2 separate regions of the Homo sapiens genome follow, and region 1 is linked to region 2. The links come from fine-mapping of genetic effects on gene expression. A gene starts in region 2. The other region holds a variant in brackets. All regions are shown on one strand. Distances are between the middles of the regions.

The links.
Region 1: its variant is fine-mapped to the expression of KCNJ16 in pancreas (GTEx, PIP above 0.99). The same link has a PIP of 0.9 or more in thyroid.

What each region holds. Positions count from the first base shown.
Region 1 is chr17:70,126,523-70,129,444 of GRCh38, reverse strand. All of the region lies in intron 2 of KCNJ16 (potassium inwardly rectifying channel subfamily J member 16), which reads right to left. It overlaps LOC124904052 (a long non-coding RNA gene), which reads left to right and starts at 565. Exons shown (of 3, transcript XR_007065890.1): 1 at 565-802; 2 at 1,288-1,376. RefSeq lists an enhancer at 33-1,232. The variant G/T (reference allele first, on the strand shown) is at 1,421.
Region 2 is chr17:70,073,618-70,076,539 of GRCh38, reverse strand. KCNJ16 (potassium inwardly rectifying channel subfamily J member 16) reads right to left here and starts at 1,315. Exons shown (of 4, transcript NM_170741.4): 1 at 1,150-1,315. LOC105371881 (a long non-coding RNA gene) reads left to right here and starts at 1,733. Exons shown (of 3, transcript XR_934952.3): 1 at 1,733-2,922.

The DNA.
Region 1 (2,922 bases), 53 kb before region 2:
GGAGGCCTTTTTGTCACACTAACTAGATGAAATATTTATTAGTCTCTTATTTAGTATTTCGTGTTAATTTGAGCTTTTTCCCAACTGTTTACCATTAAATAATCGAGGCTAGCACTTGTTGATTGACTGGAATTTTATATTTAGCATTTGTGTTTCTTAGGATTAAAACTCAGCCTTAAAAGTGCTTCGATGCTTTCGTAATTTTCTTGTCGCCATTAATTCCGCCATGAGAAAGCATTTGCAATGTTCCTACTTTTGTAATTTTTTACATGTTGCTCCGTAGAAACTGATGGTGGCTATTGAAAGACTTTCCACTGGGCCTGGAAGCTGCGGGGTGGAGGGTGAATAACTCCTCCCTTCTCAGGCCCAGTCCCAAGGCTCAAGACCACTTGAGTCAGCAGCCTGCGTCAGCAAGATAGCAGAAGCAGGAAGAGGGCTGCCCGGAAGACACGTACCCGCTGAAGACGGAAAGAGAGGCCGTCCGCGTACTGCGTAGCAGTTACATCAGACTGAGACACTTCCTGTTTACAGGAGACTTTATAAACCCCTGCCGCATACTCATTTGGTGCTGACGCCATTGTAGACCTCAGCCCGTCTGTACCCAGGCGCTCATTAGAACAGCGTGTTGCTCCACACCGCCTTGTGGTGTTTGTTACCGCGCTCTTGGGGTTCGAACCGATACAGCAGGCTTGCAGCTATTTCATTGGTTTAAACTTTTATTTTTTTATTGCAAATGAAAATTACTATCAACTATCATTACAAAGCTGTAGAATATGAAGTTCGAAGGAAAACGCTGAATCAGGTAAGGTCTATTCTGACATATAATAATGACAAAGGTAGTAAAAGCACAGCCGTTTCTTGGCTTAGAAATGACTTAGAGTTCTTTTATAGATGAGGCTAGAGAAGAGAGGCAATGCACTCAGGTTGGTGAAGCGTTTCCATCAACGTTTATTAAATACCCACAGACACTGAGGAAAGCAGCGAGAGACTCCCTGATTTACTTCATCCCACGAGGAGGTCTGAGAGAGGGGAAGTTAGAAGGGTCAGTAACCCCAACCCTGATAACCACTTTTCTCGTATCTTACTCATTGTCTTAAGCTCAGATACAGAAACATTTCTTAATCTACTGTGACCAGTAGGATCTACTTTTAGGCCTCAGCTTTCTAAATCTTTGTATTTAAGGAGAAACTTTTAATAATTTAGTACATTTCAAATAAGCTATAAACACAGCAAGGAACATTCTCAACATAACAAATGCACATCCTGCTTATTTGTCCCCGTTTCCAGTATACAAAAGCGTCTCAATCAGACTCATCCATTTTGAAGCAATTCCTCTGCCATTTTGCCACCTCCTCTCAAATTCAGCGACTTACCAGGTAAACTCCTCTTGTAGATTGCTCTTCAAAGGTAAGCTCATGCC[G/T]AGGGTACAACACAGTGGTTAAGACACTGGTGATAAAACTGGATCTTTCCTCTAGCATCTACTTAACATGATATGTTAATATGAAGTGTGTGCTTTGTATACTTTGAGATGCACCACAAAAAAGGTCTAAAATTTCTTCAGAAAACACAATTCTGAATGTCTGTGGTGTTTGAGGTAATGAGTGCCTTCTTTACCATGTAAAGGACCTGAGGTAGTTAACACATGAAGTCATCATTATTCAAGTTGCTTTCCTGACAACTATAAGATGAGATAAGTTTTGGTGGAAATTTGAGAGCTGATGGGGTGGAGAGTAGAAGAGATGGCCTAATTCTGTATGCAGGTCATTGCCTTTGAAGACAGGCTTAGGTGGAGCTCTGAGGGAGGAGGAGGAGGAGACGGGAGGATGGGACCCAGGGTAGATGAAGAGTAGGCCGGTAGAGGAAGGTGCAGTTGGTTGGTACATATGGGTGGGCTTTGGGTGCTGAGGAGCAGAGAGAGAGAGGTATTAAGAGTTAGGACAATGCCAGGCCAAATTAGTCTATGTGGCTATTTTGCTCAAAAACCTGTTTTACAACTTCTTGCCCTTGCCGTAGAATTATGCAGGAGCCTGAGGCCTGGAATCCTCCTAAGACATTCAGACCCGCTTAGGTGGAGCTCTTCATTCGGCCACTGAACTCTTGCTTTACCCAGAACCTACTAGATAACTGTCCACGCTTCTCCAAATACTCCCTGACTCTCTAACTTCAGTTTCTCCTTTGGTGACAAGTCAATGGCATTCTCAGCTTCCCTTCTCATCCCCAGAGCAGGGTGTCCTACACCTTTTCTTCCCTTTCTGATCTCTTCTCCCTCTCAGCTCTAACCCCTAACCCTAATCCTCCATTTTGGTGAATGTGGATTTTACCCCTCTCCTGATATAACTTTACAATTTATCCTCCTGAATCAATTTAAGAAAACCTTGTGCCAGTTTACTATAGAAAGGGGTTATAATATGTTATGAGCAAACAACTAAATGAAAGCTGGAGCTGGGAAGAAATCCAGTGTATCAGCATCACTAGTAACGTTATCTGGAGATCCTGTTTCTAGCCCAGTTTTTCCTTAAGTAGTATCTACATCTGATTATAAATCCTACCTCTCCCCAAATGCTGTTTTATAAAGAAGTAGAAGAAATGTAGAATCTGGGATTACGTTTCTCCATGGTTCTGGATGTCAGGATTGCACCAAAACAATATAAATTATAATTTTAAGTTACCGAGTTTAGAAATCAAATTCCCTTAATATTAGGTTGGTGCAAAACTTAAAATCACAATGATTTTGCACCAATCTAATAAATAGTCTAAAATAAAATGGTTTTCGGTATTGCAGAGAGGGCCCGAATCAGGAGGCGGACCCCAGTTCCAGGTCTGCCCTCAACTTCCTGGGCATCTTGTGGAAATAACTTTTCTCTGAGCCTCATGGTACTAATTCATGAAATAAGGTTATGATACCTATGTCACCAAAGTACT
Region 2 (2,922 bases):
TATCACAATTATCGTGTTCTAAAAATAAACAAGCAGGATTACATCTCTAAGTTACTCAGGCTCTCTTTCTCTTTCTCTCTCTTTTGATTTGAATTGAACTCTGGACCTTGTTCACTTTTAAATTCTTTTTGGCTGAATTTCAGGAATTCCTTAAATGTATTCTGCAAAACAGCTGTGGTTTGGGTACTTCATGTTCCTTTATTGGTTAAAATCTGACATAAAGAGTGGCTAGTCTACATTTCCCATACTAAAGTAACAAAGGTGCATTCATACATTTTTTTCTTCTTCAGGATCTGGCTCTTACTAGCCATAAGAGTAATATTTAGCAGAAATACTCCAATACTCTTTTTCTAAAGACCATTCAGTCCATGTAATACACATGATCAAAATTCATCTGGCTTATAGAAATGTTATTGTTTACTACCTAAATATACCAACAAGGAAAACTGTTCAATTATATATGTCAGAGAATTCGTGGCATCCAGAGAGCAAAGTTTTACAAGCTCACACTTTTCTGACTAAATACTCAAAACAAAATTTTAAGATTTTTAAATGATAAGAAAAAAAAAAAAGCTTTAGAGGGATTAAGGTGAAAACAAAAGGAGAAAATTCTTCACTTTCAATTTATGTTAAAATAAATCTAGAAAAAATAGATCTCTTATTTCCTTTCAATGATTATAGACAACTATAAAAAAAAGTTAACGTGTATTTTCTCTGAGCTTTTTAAGAGGGGGGTATAAAATACATATTTTTCAATATTTGCAATTATATGTTCATAAGTGCATACAGGATGCAAAAATCTGGTTTTGAAAGACATTGCAGAATACTCCATGTGGTATGAATATAATAAAGCCACTTTTAGACATTTACAAATATAATAGCAGGCAAGGGCTGTTTAACAGACTCTGTAAACACCAATGTGAGACTACTTTTAACCAAAGCTTCAAAATAACTTAAGGAATATGACACACTGTTTGATTCCTACTTAAAGCACTTGGATAAAAAATTAAATTATCTTAATTGCATTTAATTGATCATTAATATTTACGTTTGCTGGAAACAGAGTGTTGCTGCTCCCCAAACACAGATGCCAGCAAGAGCAAAACATAGGCTGAATGACATTGTATCCATAGCAATAATAGCACTTACCTTTATTCACTCTCCCCACAGAGAATCTATGAGCTAGGTGCTTTCAGCTGGGCAATGGTAGAGAATGCTCTTTAGTTAATAATAAAGGAAAGAAAAGCTCCAGACACCAAGAACCTGGGTTAACCATTGACACCGGTTTGTTCCTACAGTTCCTCCCTGGGAATCTACATAGGTAGCCCCTGGCGTCTTATCAAGCAAGCCATAGCCAGTCAGCTGTGGCAGTGATTACGTCACCACCTCTGTACCTCTGGAGGAGGTACAGTGTGAAGGTCACCCAAGTATATCCTGACTAAGTTTTTACTTGATCAGGGATACAAAGGAGGAAGATTTGCTGGGCCAGAACTATGCTCAACAATGCCTGTAAGTGACTCAAATATTTACAGACAGGATTGTTGAGAGACGACCTATGGAAATGCTCCTGCTAGTTTTCAGACTCTGTTGGAATAGTACAAATAAATCCCTTTCATCAGAACTCTTTGTCTACATCTTAACAGCTGAGGATTGGGATTGCATGCTGACGAAAAGCGAGACAGGATAATGACAGGTAGCTAAGCATCCATTCAGTCTTTTATTTACCAAACCTTTAATGATTATTTTTCCTGTGCTGCCTAGTTCCAAAGAACATGAGTTCACAGTTGATTAGCCCTCTGACTAATCAACATGGATGGCAGAAATTGGGGTTGGAAAGTCTTCCTTTCCTCAACCCCAGGAATCAGAGCTCGAGCCTGAGATGGTGAATACAATGCAGGCTGTGGTATAGGTTTTGCCTGGCATTGAGTCCTAATGGGTTAAATAAAATGGTGAGGTGATCCCGTGGTCAGTGCTCTCCAGGAGGTAGAAAAGTGAGTGATCAGGGAAGAGGTAGACTTATAATGCTAGAATCAAGAGAAAGATCCAGAAAATGTGAAAAGCAGCCATGGGGAACTAAACAAATAGCAACCCTAGGCTCTTCAGAACCTGGGGGAGTTGTGTCCAGGAATGCTCAATAGAAGTGTTATGCTAGCAAGGAATTAGTTTTTCCTTTGCTTCACAGAGCGGTGGCAGCCAGGGGATCTAGGGAACCACATCAGGCTTGGTTAACACTGCAAATTTAAGAGGCCTTTTCTAGGTTCTGACAATCGTTGCTGTTTGACGGTTGTTAGAGTTTTGTTTCCATTTTTAAAAGCATGAACACTTGAGGAAGTGGACTTCTATGTTGGCACCGCCACTTACTAGCTGTGTGACACTGAGAAACTGCTTAACCTTTCTGCAACTCCATTTTCTCAACTGTCAAATGGGGATGATAATAGCAACAACGACAACACCTACCACAGATAGATAATTCGTGTTCCAAACTCATAGCTGTCACTAAGGTATACATATTCTGATAGGAAGACCTATTTTGCAATCTGTTACACAATATCTGCAGAAGAGTTTGAACTCTCCAAGGGACCTATCTTTTCATTCATCCATAAATCTCAGGTAAGCAGTGAATGCAGAGGTTGCCTTTTCTGTTAAAAAAAAAAATTGAAGACTAAACAAATGCCTACATTTCCATAACAATTGCAGCAACTCTCATTGTGGTTTATCCATGATGTTGTTCAATATTATCACTTAATGCTGCTCAATTACTGCCTTGTTTGAAAGCAGAGCACACTTTGTTAGAGTTCTATCTCAAAAGACTTAAAAAAAACACACACGCAAAAATGGACAGGACTCCATCTGCTCTGCAAATACAATTTCAGGAAAGGTGATTTTATGTGGGTGAGCATTTAGATTGATCTGAGAAGACGA